Linked DNA regions of Homo sapiens: region 1 is linked to region 2. Evidence: fine-mapped expression QTL. Tissue or cell type: whole blood. Region 2 holds a variant in brackets; the other region holds the start of a gene. All regions are shown on one strand. Distances are between the middles of the regions.

The links. PIP is the estimated chance that this variant, and not a neighbour inherited with it, causes the effect.
Region 1: RELL2 starts here. The variant in region 2 is fine-mapped to the expression of RELL2 in whole blood (TOPMed, PIP above 0.99).

The regions. Positions count from the first base shown.
Region 1 is chr5:141,633,109-141,641,214 of GRCh38, reverse strand. RELL2 (RELT like 2) reads right to left here and starts at 4,218. Exons shown (of 7, transcript NM_173828.5): 1 at 2,806-4,218; 2 at 2,355-2,420; 3 at 2,194-2,260; 4 at 1,566-1,751; 5 at 920-1,295; 6 at 770-803; 7 at 151-544. The coding sequence starts at 2,989. The coding sequence ends at 771. It overlaps HDAC3 (histone deacetylase 3), which reads left to right and starts at 4,366. Exons shown (of 15, transcript NM_003883.4): 1 at 4,366-4,479; 2 at 4,585-4,667; 3 at 6,262-6,404. The coding sequence starts at 4,425. It overlaps FCHSD1 (FCH and double SH3 domains 1), which reads left to right. Exons shown (of 20, transcript NM_033449.3): 20 at 1-1,913. RefSeq lists enhancers at 2,810-2,929, 3,630-3,679, 6,917-7,046 and silencers at 4,190-4,479, 4,540-4,589, 4,599-4,893.
Region 2 is chr5:141,542,226-141,550,331 of GRCh38, reverse strand. All of the region lies in intron 18 of DIAPH1 (diaphanous related formin 1), which reads left to right. Among named protein-coding and RNA genes, the nearest start is that of DIAPH1-AS1, 12 kb to the left of the region's middle. RefSeq lists a silencer at 2,444-2,644. The variant G/A (reference allele first, on the strand shown) is at 3,114.

The DNA.
Region 1 (8,106 bases), 91 kb before region 2:
CATCAAGGTCTCTAGTAGTTCTGGCCCACCTCTTTCCCCACCCTGGCTCCATGACCCACCCCACTCTGGATGCCAGGGTCACTGGGGTTGGGCTGGGGAGAGGAACAGGCCTTGGGAATCAGGAGCTGGAGCCAGGATGCGAAGCAGCTGTAATGGTCTGAGCGGATTTATTGACAATGAATAAAGGGCACGAAGGCCAGGCCAGGGCCTGGGCCTCTTGTGCTAAGAGGGCAGGGGGCCTACGGTGCTATTGCTTTAGGGGCCCACCACGGGCAGGGGCCTGCTCCCAGCTGCCACGCTCTATCATATGGAGCGAGGTGTTGGGGAAGGCGGGGCAGGCAGCCTGTTGCAGGCAGGGGAAGGAGAAGAGACTGAGGGGCTGTGACCTCTCCTGAGGCCCCCAGCCTGAGACTGTGCAACTCCAGGTGGAAGTAGAGCTGGTCCCTCAGCTGGGGGGCAGTGCTGTCCAGTGGAGGGGAGGGCTTTCACGCCCACCCACCCCCTGGCCCTGCCAGCTGGTAGTCCATCAGCACAATGAAGGAGACTTGGAGAAGAGGAAGAATAACACTGTTGCTTCCTGTTCAAGCTGTGTCCAGCTTTTCCCCTGGGGCTCCAGGACCTTCCCTACCTCCACCACCAAACCAAGGGATTTATAGCAAAGGCTAAGCCTGCAGTTTACTCGGGGGGTTCAGGGAGCCGAAAGGCTTAAATAGTTTAAGTAGGTGATGGGAAGATGAGATTACCTCATTTAGGGCTCAGGCAGACTCACCTCACATACTCCCTGCTCCCTGTGGTAGAGACACCTGAGAGAAAGGGGAGGGGTCAACAATGAGAGACCAGGAGTAGGTCCTATCAGTGCCCCCCAGAGTAGAGAGCAATAAGAGCCCAGCCCAGTGCAGTCCCGGCTGTGTTTTCCTACCTGGTGATCAGAAGTGTCTGGTTTGCTTGGCTGCCCATTTGCCTCTTGAGTGGGCAGCCCTGGGCTTGGGCCCCTCCCTCCGGCCCTCAGTGTTGGCTCTGCAGAAGCTCTGGGGTTCCCTTCAAGTGCACGAGGGGTTAGGCTGCTGTCCCTGAGTCCTCCATTCTGTACTGGGGGGCTGGCTAGGACCTGGGGCTGTGGCCTCTCAGGGGGCAGCCTCTCCATGGCAGGCATCCCTGCCTTGGGCTGCCCTCCCCCAGACCCCTGACCACCCCCTGGGTCCTGTCCCCCACCAGAGCCCCAGCTCCTGTCTGTGGGGGAGCCATCACGGTGTTCGTGCAGTCCATAGCGCTTCTCAATGTGTGTCACCCGGAACCTGGGAGGGGAGGGAACACTGGGGTTTAGGACCACAACTCAGAGGCTGCTTGGCCCTCCCCTCTGACCAGGGACATCCTGAGTTTGGTGGCTACTTCCCTCTGGCCTAAGGTAGGGGAGGCCTTCTCAGATTGTGGGGCACATTGTGTAGCCTGACTTCTGCCGGAGCTCCCAGTCCAGGAGGAAAGAGCCAAGGCCCACTTTTGGGATCAGGTGCCTGATCACTGGGCCCCCTACCTCAGCCCCCCTTTCCCTGGAGCACCTGCCCCACCTGCCCACAGAGAACACAGTGGTCTCCCCTGTCCGGGGGCGGCTTTTTCCTTCCTTGGAGCGTCCCTGACGGACAAGTGGAGGCCTCTTGCTGCGGCTGCAATGGAGGCAAGGGGCTGCAGAGCCCAGGTGCACTGTGTGATGATGGGAGGGGGCTCCGTCCTGCAGGCTGGAGGTGGCATCCACACTGGACAGCAGGGAGGAGGGGAGTGAGGGTAACATTTCCATTTCCCTTCATGTTTTGTTTCTTACGTTCTTTCAGCATGCTCCTTAAAACCCCAGAAGCCCCAATTTCCCCAAGCCCCATTTTTTCTTGTCTTTATCTAATAAACTCAATATTAAGATGTTAGTGACCATATGTTCTTCCTCCCAGGGCTGTTTGCTAAAAAGAACACTGCTTAACCCAAAGGAGTGGCACTAGAGGTGAATGTTAGGCTTGATGATATCTAGATGAGAGAGATGGTTTGAAGGAATCGCGATTTCTACAAAACAACTTTCTTCCTATAAGTTAGCCAGCTTTGCCCTTCCCCCAACCCCATACATGCAAGGAGGCTGGGAGAGGATTGTGCTGGAGGAGAGGATACTCTCCAAGGCAAGCTAAGTCATGCTGGCCCTTGTTTCCAGCTCACCTGGACAGCTGCACTGTCCCTTCTCCTTCACTGTCCCCCAGCATCTCCTTCAAGGCCTCAGCATTGGCTGAGGGAAGAAGGAAAAGAGGGAGTCAGTGGAGGTGGAGGTCAGGGCAAGAGAAGGTTGGAGAAGAGGGAGCAAGGGGCTATGCTAGACCCACCTTCATTCTGGATGATGCAGCGAACAATCCTCTCTACTGTGTCCTCATTCATGTCATCGTCCTCAGCTGAAGGATGAAAGAGATTGGCAAGGAAGCAGGAATGAGTCAGCTTTGGGGGAATATTACCTGGTGGCTCCCATCATTTATTGCTTAGGACATACCCTTTTACCTACTTGCTATCATGCTGGACCTCAGCATTTCAGGGACCAGAAAAGATGGGGACACCAATGCAAGCCCAAGACTACCATCCAGAGGACCGTTCCTGCCCATGCTGCTTTCTCTAGTTTTGCTTTCAGAGTGGTGTCACCCCACTTGCTAACTCAAGAGTGCATCACTAGGCTTCCTGAGCAGGTTTGATCAGGATTTGGCCTGGGTCTGTTGGTCAGGGAGGCAGAGGTGTGGGGAGAAGGGTGAAAGGTGACTGAGCCAGGGTTCCAGGCTCCTCACTCACGGGGCTGAAGCTGGGCATCGTCAGGCTCAGAGCCCCTCGACGTGCGGCAGCGGTAGCCCTTCTTCTTGAGCACGTGGCAGATCATGAAGCCTACCAGGCCCATGAGGAAGAAGACCAGCACAAGCAGGAAGAGCATATATAGCCCATGTTGGGGCGGTTCCAGGTCAGGCTGTGGTTCCGACATGAGGCCCTGGGGGGCGAGCGCGGGCCAGGGCGCCTCCTGGGTTTAGGGGGCTGCAGCTGGGAATGGGGGAGGGGTAGGAATGCCGTCCTCAGGATCTGAAACAAGCACGTCTAAGACGTCCGGCTGAGGTCCGGCCCCACCCCCTACCCAACCAGGGAGCTGTCCGGGCCAGGAGTGCTGTTTCGCCTTTCGGCAAGAGGTCAGCGGCAACGCAAGCTCTCTACCACGACCCTGGTCCCGCTTCCCCGACGCCCCGAGCGTTCCCCTTTCCAGCTTGTTCGCGCTTCTGTCCCTCCCAAGGACACTGCAGCACGAGATGGGACGGCATTCTTAGGCGGCGGGAGCAGAAATCCTGCCTGAGTCAGCGCCCGCACCTCCTCCACGCCGGCCTGAGCCAGGCCTCTGCAGCCCCTTCCTCTCAGTACTCCCGCACCCCTCTCCCTTTTTGGTTTCTCCCACCCTGACCACCTGGCCGACCCGGTACCGGTGATTTGGTTCTGGTTCCGGCTTCTGCTGGGGTTCCGGCTCCAGGGGCGTCCTAGTGCGGCTCAGGGCCCCCGACGCCCTTCCGGCGCTCATCCCTTGATTCCTCCCCTCCCCCTTCGCCGCCTCACCGGCCCCGGGCTGTGGCTGCGGATACCCGCGCCGTGGCAGGCGGGGGGAGGGAAGAACAGAGAAGGATGCGGGCTGGCTGAGAGCGGTGGCAGGCTCCGGGCAACTCCGGCCCTGGGTCAGGGAGATCGCCTCCGCAGCCGCCCTGGCTTCCCAAATGCCTTCACCCGTCGCGGGCCCAGGACCAGGGGGCGGAGCGCAGGTGTGCGGGGCGGAGAGCGTGAGCTCTGCGCGCGCGTGACTGCGCCGGGCCCCCCCGGGGCAATGTGCGGCGCCGAGTCTGGGTCCGGGTAGGGGACAGGCGGTCCGGCGTGGGTGTTGTCCACTGGTCTATCCGGTACGCCTGGCGCAGCTCCTGCCCTCAGATGCCCCGACCGAGCGGAGAGTCAGGAATCTTCTCCGAGGGCTGGGGGAAGCCGGCTTTCCGCACCTTTGAGGGACGGAGTGGCGGGATCTTCGGAGCTTCCTAGAGAAGTGACCACGGCCTGCGCCCGGTTTGGGGCAAGCGGCTGGATGGGATGGCTCGGCTTCCCGAGGATCTGACCCCCGGCCGGAGACAAATGGCCCTCGCATCCTAGGAGCTATGCTGCCAGTTCCCTGCCCAACCCGGGACGCTCAAAGCCCCAGATACCGGGAGAGCTGAGCCGGGCGAGGGGCGGAGCTCCCCTGGGGGCGTGGCCTGGGTGTGGATGGAGGCGGGGCCGCAACGCCCAGTTCCGCAGAGGCCGGCTACGTGCTTGCGCAGCACGCACGGCCGGGGAGGGGCTGGCGGCGGCCGCGGGCGGCGGGCGGCGGAGGTGCGGGGCCTGCTCCCGCCGGCACCATGGCCAAGACCGTGGCCTATTTCTACGACCCCGACGTGGGCAACTTCCACTACGGTGAGGAAACAGGGATATGCATGAGGGGTTGGGACACGGAGGTTTTGAGGCGGGGTTGCAACTCCAGGGGTGAGAGCTGACGAACTCTCTTCTCCCCACCCCCAGGAGCTGGACACCCTATGAAGCCCCATCGCCTGGCATTGACCCATAGCCTGGTCCTGCATTACGGTCTCTATAAGAAGATGATCGTGAGTTCCGCCGCCTCGGCCGGGGGTTGGGGGGTGGGGCGAGCTGTGGCCGTAGGGATAGGTGGGCTGGACTGAGTGCATGAAGTGCGACCCGCCCCTAGAGTATCGGGGAGCTGGATAGAAGTCACCAGGAGTACCTTGAAAGTGCAGGGTGTTGGGGGTGGCGTCCTCTGCTTAATGGAAAGTACTTTCTCACCTCAGGTCGGCCACCCTCTGACTGTAGGCACACTAGCCCTTGGCCTAGGGTTAGCGTGATGTGGGGCTGGTTTGAAGACAGAAGGTGTGTTCCTCCTCTGCATTTTAGAGTGTGGATAGGGCCTTGGCCTCAGGAATTAGGGTTAGGGGAGCGGATATCACTGTATCAGGGTGTGAGGTTTACCCTCAGTTCCCACTCCTCTTTTACCACCTTTCTTTACCTCCAAGGAGCTAGGGCTCCAGGGTGGAACGATGCTGCCGTCTTTGTAAATGTGTATGTGCGTGTGGAACAGAGGCGATATTTTAGATATTCCTTTTTCAGCCTGGAATACCTCTACATGGTTCTGCTTAATCGCTATCCAGTTTTTCATCTACCAGACATACACATGCTGTCTTCCCAGCTTGGAATTTATGGCTGTGATATGGGATAGTAACAGTTAAGCCACGCCAGGCGTGGTGGCCCATGCCTGTAATCCCAGCACTTTGGGAGGTTGAAATGGGGGGGATCGCTTGAGGCCAGGAGTTGGAGACCAGCTTGGGCCACAGTGGGACCCACATCTACAAAAAATAAAAATAAAAAAAGTAGCCATGTGCGGTGGGTGTGCCTGTAGTCCCAACTACTTGGGAGGCCGAGGCGAGAGGATGGCTTGGGCCCAGGAGTTTAAAGTTACAGTGATCTATGATCAGCAGCCTGAGTTGACAGGGAGGACCTTGTCTCAAAAGAAAAAATAAGACAAAACAGCTAAACCCAGGCTTTATGTGTTGCTAGGGAAACTAGTGAACAATATGAATGAATGTTCATTGCTTGTGCCAAGGCACAGACAAATGGACTGGTCATAGAAAAGACTGAGGTGATGTTAGTGCAGGAATCTATATCCCTTGAGATTGTTTGCCTGTATGTACCTGTGTGCATTTTCTGGGAGAAGAAAAGCTCTTTCTTGTGCAGTTTTCAAAGAGGTGTGACACATCCCCCTGACCTTCCAAAGATAATAAATCTTTGATTTTAATTAGAAAGTTGACATATATCCCATATATTTGACTCCAGAAAGAAGAATCCAGAGGAAAGAGGACAGAATCAGAGCTTGGGGGAGGAGATGAGCATGGAGAGAACTGGGAATAGGAGATTCCAAGGAACAGGGCAGGTGGATCAGGGCTCAAAGTTGAGAAGGTACGATAGGCTGAGCTGGAGGTGGAAAGGAAAAGAAGTGGTCTTCAGGGGGCTCATTTGTAATAACTTACCTGGTTAATCGGAGTCTCTCTACTGACTTAAGGATTGTGGGATGAGGGGAATGCTATGTTTGGCTTCATATAGTCTCCAGGACTGGGTTCAGTATGGGTGGTCTGAGCCTGTGGAGTGGGGCTGACCCTGCCTGGGTTCATCTTGTGTCTCCATCCCGAGGTCTTCAAGCCATACCAGGCCTCCCAACATGACATGTGCCGCTTCCACTCCGAGGACTACATTGACTTCCTGCAGAGAGTCAGCCCCACCAATATGCAAGGCTTCACCAAGAGTCTTAATGCCTTCAACGTAGGCGATGACTGGTGAGGGAGGACTGGGAGTTTTGATGTCTAACAGTTTAATGCCAAGCCCTTCAGTGAGGTCTTTTGGCAGCAGTGGGAAGATCTCAAGGGGGGCCTACTTGTCAATGCATCATAATTCATTTTATTTGTTTATTCAATAAATATTTATTGGTCACTTGTTCTAGGCAGGCCCTGTGCTAAGTGCTGGGAATGCAGTGATGAACAAAAACAAAATTTTAATATCGTATTTTTGCTAAGTCTTATAAAGAGGAGGTGTATGACAGATTATGAGAGTGTATACGTGGAGGATTGTTTAGCTTGGTGGAGTGGCTGGTCGGTGGGGCCTTCCTAGAGGAAGTAAAGATTGAGCTGAGATCTGAAAAAAGAGTAGAAGTAATCAGATGAAAGATGGTTGGAGGGTGAGGGGAGAAGTATAGCAGGCAGTAGGGACAAGTGCTAAGGGTCTGTGGTAGGACTGAGTATGACTCATTTGAGGAACAGAAAAAAGGCCAAGTGCAGAGTATGAAGAGGAGGTGAACTGAATTGAGGCTAAAGAAATAGGACCTTTTAAAAGCAAACAGCTCTATTATGAATTGGGGTTTTTACCCGTAGAGTAGAGGGAAGCTATCAAAGTGTTTTAAAAAGCAAGGGATCTTAAGAGGGCTATGGGCAGTTAAAAAAACAAAAAAAACAACGAAGGAGTGGTTTGATATCATTAGGTTTACATTGAGCTTGTATCATCCATAGAAGAGTCAGGGTTAGACCCTCTGGGGAAGAGAGTGGACAACAAAGATAAGCCACACTCTACTCTATATCCATGAAAAAATAGTAACCATCACAGCTACCAGTTGCTCAATTCTACTTACTTTTGTTTTTAAACTTTTTATTAGGGAAAATTTCAAAAATTTCTGAAAGTGAAGTAGTGCAGTGACCTCCCATACGTCCATCACCTAGCTTCAACGCTTATGAGCAAATGGCCACTCTTTTTTTTTTTTTTTTTTTTTTTGAGACAGAGTCTCACTCTGTAGCCCAGGCTGGAGTGCAGTGGTGCAGTCTTGGCTCACTGCAACCTCTGCCTCCTGGGTTCAAGCGATTCTCATGCCTCAGACTCCCGAGTAGCTGGGATTACAGGCGCCTGCCACCATGCCTGGCTAATTTTTGTATGTTTAGTAGAGATGGGGTTTCACTATGTTGGTCAGGCTGGTTTTGAACTCCTGACCTCAGGTGATCCACCAGCCTCAGCCTCCAAAAGTGCTGGGATTACAGACGTGAGCCATCGCACCCAGCTGAGCAAGTGGCCACTCTTACTTCATCTATACTCCCTCATGTTAGATTGTTTTAAAGCAGATCCTAGATGTTATATCCTTTTATCCATAAATATTTTATTATGTATCTCTAAATGATACTCTTTTAAAAAAACATAGTATCATTATCAAACCTAAAAAGTTAACAGTGATTCCTTAATGTCATCAAATATGGGATCAATATTCAAATTTCTGCAGTTGTCTCATAATTATTTTGTAGCTAATTTAAATCCAGATCTAAACAAGGTCTATACAGTGCATTTGGTTGATATGTCTCTTAAGACTTTTAATTTGTAGCTTTTCTGTCACCCCCTTGAATTTATTTCTTGAAGAAACCAGGTTGTTGATCCTGTAGAATTTCTTATGATAGCTACCATTTACTGAGTGCTTACTCTGCTAGGTATTATGCCAAGGGTTGC
Region 2 (8,106 bases):
TTATAGTTCCTCAGTTTTTATTTTTTGTGACCTTAACGTGTCCATCAGTTTGGATTTGTCTCGTGTCCTCATTATTAGATTCAGGTTATACATTTTTGGTGCTTTATTTATCTTAAGATAATGTTATTAGGTACATACAAATTTAAAAATCCTGCATTTTCCTGATGAACTAAACTTTTTTTTTTAATCAGTATAGAAAGTCCCTCTTTATCTTTTATACTGCTTTTTGTTACCTTAAAGACTATTTTCGTCTGATGTGAATGCAACTTGGACAACTTTCTTCTAGTTAGAATTTGCCTGGTATAGCTGTACTTTTTCTTCCTTTCTGTATCCTTGCTCTAGATGTTTCTCATAAACAGCATATCCTTGGACTCTTGTTTTTTAATCCACTTGACACCATTGGTCTCAACCAATACAGAGTGTGTAGTCTGTTTACATTTAATGTAATTACTGAAATATTGAGGTTTAAATCTACCGTCTTATTTTGTGCTTTTTATGAGTTCCATTTGTTGCATGTGATGTGTTGATTTCATTCCATTCAAAATATTTTTTTCTATTTTGTGATTTCTTACCTGACTCCAGAGTTATTTATATATTTGCTTAATATCCAAATAATTGGGTATTTTTTGGTTATCTTTTTACTGATAGCTTAGTACTTTGAATTATTTCTATCCTTTGAAATTTGTTGAGGCTTGCTTTTACCCATATATGGTAAATTTTGGCAAATATGCTGTATACATATGAAAAAAGATATGTTAGTATTATTGGGTACATTGTTCTAACATGTCAGTTAACTTTGTTAGATATGGTCAGATTTTCTACGTCCTTTCCAAGTTTTTATCTGCTTGTTTTATTAGTATTGTGTGACGGGTGTTAATTCTTCCACTGTGGTTATGGATTTGTCTTTTTCAGCCTTTAGTTCACTCAATTTTTAACTTTATATATTTTAAAACTAAATTATTGGATATTTTTAGATTTAGAATTATTATATTTTCCTCAAGGATTGACCCTTTATTATGAAATGTATGTATCATGCCAGTTATTAGAGATGATATCTCTATCTGATACTAGTATAGCTACACCAGTTTTCTCTTGATTATTGTTCTTTTGATTAGTACATCTTCTTCCACTATTTTACTCTCAATATATCTGTGTCTTTATTTAAGGTGTGTCCCTTATAAGCAGCACATATTTAGTATGTTTTGTAACTCCAGTCTGACAGTTTTAGTCTTTTCATATATTTAATCCATTTGAGTTGATATATACCCTATTTCTATTTGTTTTCTGTTTGATTTTCATGATTTATGTTCTTTTTTCTGTTTTTGCCCTCTTACGGATTAATTTAGAACTGTATTATTTCACATTTCCCCTGTCGTTATATACCTTTTTACTATCCTCCTAGTGAGTATCTTAAAAATTACAATATACATACTTGACTTATGATAGTCTAATACAAATTATAATTTTACTACCCTCTAGATAATGCTAGAACTTTACAACATTTCTTTTTTTATTTTTCTTTTTTGAGGCAGGGTCTCACTTTGTCACCCAGGCTGGAGTACAGTGGCATGATTGTGGCTCACTGCAGCCTCAGCCTCCTCGGGCTTAGGTGATTCTCCCACCTGAGCCTCCCAAGTAACTGGGACTACAGGCACACATCACCATGCTTGCTAATTTTTGTACTTTTTGTAGAGACAGGGTCTCAACCTTATTGCCCTTATTGCCCAGGCTGGAACATTTTAGCTCTGTTATGTACCTTCCTTTTGAGTTACTGGTGTCATGCAGTTTGATTCTGTAGGTGCTTTAAACCCCACAAATATTTTTACTGTTACTTTGTAATACCAGTAGTCACTTAGAAACACCTTTCTAGTGTTTTTGCTTCCTGTCTACATTTTTGTATTTCCTTCGGATAATTTTTTCTTTCTTCTGCCTGAATAAATACTCCCTTTACTATATTAGTTCAGGTCTGCTGCTAATGAATTGTGTTTTTTTGTGGATATATCTTTATTTCATCCATATTTTGGAAGATGTTTTTTCTTTTTTTTTTTTTTAAAGAATTCCACTGTCAGTCTTATTGTTTTTCATTTGAAGATAATATGTTCCACCCCCTGCTATTTTGAGGTTTTTTTTTTTGAAACAAGATCTTGCTCTGTCGCCCAGGCTGGAGTGGAGTGGCGCAATCATAGCTCATGGTAGCCTTGAGCTCCCAGGCTTAAGTGAGCCTCCTACCTCAGCTTCCTGAGAAGCTAGGACTACAAGCGTGCACCACCGCATCCAGCTAATTTTTTAGTTGTTTTGTAAAGATGGAGTCTCACTGTGTTGCCTGGGTTGGTCTCAAACTCCTGGGCTCAAGGAATCCACGCACATTAGCCTCTCAAAGTGGATTACAGGTGTGAATCATCTGGATCACCACACCCAGCAAGGATTTTTTTTTTAACTCTGATTTTTAGCAGTTTTACTATGATGATATGCCACGGTGTGGTTTTCTTTGTATTTATACTTGAGTTTCTCTGAGCTGCTTGATTCTGTATGTTGAAGGCTTTCATCACTTCTGAAAAATACACAACTATTTTCTCTTCAAATCTTGCTCCTGTCCAATTTTTCTTCTCTTTCTGGGCCTCCAGTTATACATATGTTGGACCATTGGCCTTTTCAATGTGTCTCACTTGTCCATTACATTCTTTTTCATTCTTACCATTTTTAACCTCTGTGCTTTTAGTTTGGATCTTTGTTACTGTCTTCCAGTTCACCCATTTCTACTATGTCTACTGTTAAACCCATCTGTTGAGCTTTTAATTTCAATTATATTAATATTTTTTAGTTGTAGAATATTCATAGATTTTTATTTTTTATTTTTATTTATTTATTTTTGAGGCGGAGTCTCTGTCGCCCAGGCTGGAGTGCAGTGCCGCGATCTTGGCTCACTGCAAGCTCCGTCTCCTGGGTTCACACCATTCTCCTGCCTCAGCCTCCCGAGTAGCTGGGACTACAGGCACCTGCCACCGTGCCTGGCCAATTTTTTGTATTTTAAGTAGAGATGGGGTTTCACCGTGTTAACCAGGATGGTCTTGATCTCCTGACCTCATGATCCGCCCGCCTTGGCCTCCCAAAGT[G/A]CGGGATTACCGCGCCTGGCTGAATGTTCATAGATTTTTTAAAAGTAAATTCTACTTCTCTGATGAACTTCTCCGTCTTCATTTATTTTTATTTTTTCCTCTATATTCCAGAACATGTTAACCAGAGTGATTTTAAAGTCCTTTTTGGGAAACTGTAATGTCTGAGTTGTATGTGAATCTGTTCCTATTGGTTTGTTCCTTGAACTTTGGGCAAATGATCCTCCCTTTTGACATTACTAGTAATTTTGATTAAATGCCCAGGCATTGCATATAACAATGGTGGAAACTCCAGATGATGTTACTTTTCTCTGAAAAGAGAAGTCACACTTTCCTCTCTAGACAGATAATAGTAGAGGCTGATTGTGTTAATCCAGTCAGGAATTGAGCTGTGCCAAGACGTGGTTGTGGTTTTGGAAAAGCTTGATCTACCTCTTTCACCCTGTTCCTAGAGTGTAGTCTTTCTAAGGCTTTCAGCTGTGAGCCTGTTTTATTCAACTTTAAGGATATAGCCTTTTGTGCTCCCAGCTTAAGGAGGAGAGTCTCTTTTTTTTTTTTTCTTTTTTTTTTCAGAGTCTCATTCTGTCGCCCAGGCTGGAGTGCAGTGGCACGATCTCAGCTCACAGCAACTTCCACCTCTCGGGTTCAATCAATTCTCCTGCTTCAGCCTCTCAAGTAGCTGGGATTACAGGCACCTGCCATCATGCCCGACTCATTTTTGTATTTTTAGTAGAGACGGGGTTTCACCACGTTGGGCAGGCTGGTCTTGAACTCCTGACCTCGTGATCCACCTGCCTCGGCCTCCTAAAGTGCTGTGATTACAGGTGTGAGCCACCACGCCTGGCTGGTCTCATATTTTGTTTGTTTGTTTGTTTTTTGAGACGGAGTTTTGGCTCACTTCAGCCTCTGCCTCCTGAGTTCAAGCAGTTATCCTGCCTCAGCCTCCCGAGTAGCTGGGATTACAGGCATGCGCCACCATGCCTGGCTAATTTTTGTAGTTTTAGTAGAGACAGGGTTTCGCCATGTTGGCCAGGCTGCGCTCAAACTCCTGACCTCAGGTGATCTGCCCACCTCAGCCTCCCAAAGTGCTGGGATACAGGCATGAGCCACTGTGCCCGGCCCCAGAGTCTCATATGTTTTACTTTATACCATCTTGATTTTTTGTTATTCTTAGGGAAGTTTTCATTTATTCAAGATTATATTTCTGTTTTTTATAGTTAGATTTTTAATGTATCTAGAATTTAGTTTTGTGAATATCATAAAATTAGGATCTTACTATATTCCTTTAAAATGGAAAGCCAGTCGTCCCAACACTATTGGTTAGACCAGGAGTCAGCAAACTACGGCCAACATGTTTTGTTAATAAGGTTTTATTGGAACACAGCCATTCTATTGTCATTGTCAATGACTATTTTCATATTATGCCGGCAGAGTTGAGTAGTTGCAACAGAAACTATTAATATATGGTCCACAAAGCCTAAAATATATGTCTGTTTATGGAATTTCTTTTATTTCTTTATTTGCTTAATGTGTTCTTCTCTCATCATCTCACACTGTTTTTTGTTGTTGCTTTTTTTCTGAGACAGGGTCTCATTCTGTTGCCCAGGCTGAGTACAGTGGCATAATCACAGCTCACAGCAGCCTCAGCCTTCTGGGCTCAGGGGATCCTCCTACCTCAGCTTCCTAAGCAGCTGGGACTATAAGCATGTGCCACCATGCCTGACTAACTTTTTATTTCTTGTAGAGACAGACTGTGTCGCCTAGGCTGGTCTCGAGCTCCTGGACTCAAGCAGTCCTACCACTTGTCCTTCCAAAGTGCTGGGATTACAGGCATGAGCCACTGTGTCCAGCTGTTCTCACACTATTATAGTTATTTTAGCTTTATCCTACTGTATTGGCCTTGAAGATACAATTTGTTTAGTCAGGTTTGCTGAGATATAATTTATATATAGTAAAATTCACCCTTTTTATGTGTACAGTATTATATGGCTGACAAATGTATACGGCCATATAATCACAGTCACTCCAAAAAGTTCCTTCATGTTCATTTGTCAGTCCTCCTCCTTATTGCCAAACCCTGGCATACCACTGATCTATTTTCTGACAGTTGTGTCTTTTTCAGACTGTCATATAAGTAGAATCATACACTAAGTAGCCTTTTCAGTCTGGATTCTTTGATTTTAGCATAATGTCCATTATGTCCATTCACTGGCTGATGGACATCTGGGTTGTATCCAGTTTTTGGCAATTATGAATAAAGCTGATAGAAACGTTTGCATACAGGATTTTGTCTAGACAAATATATTTTCATTTTGGAGGGATAAACACCTAGGGATGAGATTGTTGGGTCATATGGTATGGTAAATGTATGTTTAACTGTATAAGAAACTGCCAAACTGTTTTCCAAAGTGGCTGTACCATTTTTCATTTCCACTAGCAATGTATGAGAGTTGCAAATGCTTTGCATCCTCACCAACACTTAAGTCTCATAAGTTTTGTTTGGTTTTGTTTTTAGTGATTTTAAAAGGTTAGACTTTGTAGTTTTAATTCCTAATGAGTTTAATTCCTAGTACATAGTTTTCATGACTTACTGATGATATTGAGCAGCTTTCTCTGTGCTTAATTTGCCATCTGTATATCTTCTTTGGTAAAGTGACTTTCCAAATCTGTCCATTTTTTAAAATTGGGTTGTTTTCTTATGATCTAGTCATAACTTTTTAATCTGTGTTGGGTATACTAGTTCTTTATCGGATAAGTGTTTTGCAGATATTTTCTCCCAATCTTGTCTTCTCATTTCTTAATAATGGCTTCAAAAGAACAGAAGTTTTTAATTTTGATGAAGTCTGCTTCATCAATTTTTCTTTTTATGTTTTGTATTCTTTTCTTTCTTTATTTTTATTTTTATTTTTTTGAGATGGAGTCTCACTCTTGTCGCCCAGGCTGGAGTGCAGTGGTGCCATCTCAGCTCACTGCAAGCTCCACTTCCCAGTTTCACACCATTCTCCTGCCTCAGCCTCCCGAGTAGCTGGGACTACAGGTGCCCGCCACCACGCCCGGCTAATTTTTTGTATTTTTACTAGAGACAGGGTTTCACCGTGTTAGCCAGGATGGTCTCGATCTCCTGACCTTGTGATCTGTCTGCCTCAGCCTCCCAAAGTGCTGGGATTACAGGCGTGAGCCACCGCGCCCGGCCGATTTATACTTTTTTTTGTGTCTTACCTGAGAAATTATTACCACCTCAAAGCTGTGAAGATTTTCCCCTGTTCTCTTCTAGATGTTTGGTAGTTTTAGGTTTTCCATTTAGTTCTATGGTCCGTTGTATAGATGCATGCTTGTCTATATGCATGTATACATTTATCTATTGATTGTATTGACATATAATTCACATATGATAAAATTCATCTTTAAAGTATACAATCCCATTTTTTGTGTGTGTACAGATGCTCCTTGACTTACAATAGAATTATGTCCTGAAAGCCATTGTGAGTCGAAAATATTGTTAAGTTGGAATGCATTTAATAACACCTAACTTACCAAACATCTTTCTTAGCCTAGCCTACCTTAAACATGCTCGGGACACTTATATTAGCTTACAATTGGACAAAATAATGTAACGCAAAGCCAGTTTTATAATGTTGATAATGAATTTTGAATCAAAATTTGAAGTACAATTTCTACTGAATGCATATGGCTTTTGCACCATCATAAGCTAAAAAAAATTGTTAGGTTGAATTATCTTAAGTCAGGGATAGTCTGTATTCAGAAAGTTGTCCAGCCATTACCACTATCTAATTCCACAGCATTCTTATCACGCTTACAAGAAACCCTGAATCCACTAGCAGCCACTTCCTACTTCCCATTCCACCCAACTTGGCATCTGCTAATTTACTTACTATCATATGGATTTGCCTGTCATGGACATGTTGTGTCAATATAATTAATAAAGTATGTGCCCTTTGTGTCTGGCTTCTTTCACTAATCATGATGCTTGCAAGGTTCGTGTTGCAGCATGTATTAGCACTTCATTCCTTTTTATGACACCACATTTTGTTTTTTCCATTCATCAGTTGATGGACATTAGGATTGTTTCCACTTTTTGGCTATTATAAATAATGCTACTATGAACATTTTCTTTTTTTTTTTTTGTAACTAAACTGAGATGAAGTACCAACAGCATGACCTTTTACCCTTAAATTCTTCAGCATGCATCTTCTAAATACAAGTTCTATAATCACAGTGTAATTATCACATTTAGAAAATTTATCATTGATAGGATACTGTTATCTAATATACAATCCATATTCAAGTTTCACCAATTGAATTAGTTTTTAAACATGTAAGACAATAAACAATTTTATTGAGATGAAATTCACACAACATAAAATTAACCATTTTAGAGCAAGCAATTTAGTGGCATTTGGTATACTCATAATGTACAACCATCATATCTATCCAGTTCCAAAACATTTTCATCACTCCCAAAAGAAATCCTTTACACTTTAAGCAGTTGCTCCTCATTCCTCCATCCCTTTAGCTCCTAACAATCACCAGTCTATGTGTGTCTCTATAGATTTACCTCTTCTGAATATTTCATATAAGTGAAATAATATATGTGACTTTTGTGTCTGGCTTCTTTCACTTTAGCATGATGTTTTTGAGAATTCTCCACATTGTATCATGTTATCAGTAGCTCATTACTTTTTATGGCAGAATAATATTCCATTGCATATGCCACAGTTTGTTTATGCATTAATTGACAGACAGACAATTTCTTTTTTTTTTTTTTCCCAAGACAGAGTCCCACTCTGTTGCCCAGTCCAGAGTGTAGTGGCACGATCTTGGCTCACTGCAACCTCTGCCTCCTGGGTTCAAGTGATTCTCTTGCCTCAGCCTCCCGAGTAGCTGGGATTACAGGCATGCGCCACCATGCCCAGCTAATTTTTTGTATTTTTAGTAGAAATGGCATTTCACCATGTTGGCCAGGCTGGTCTCGAAC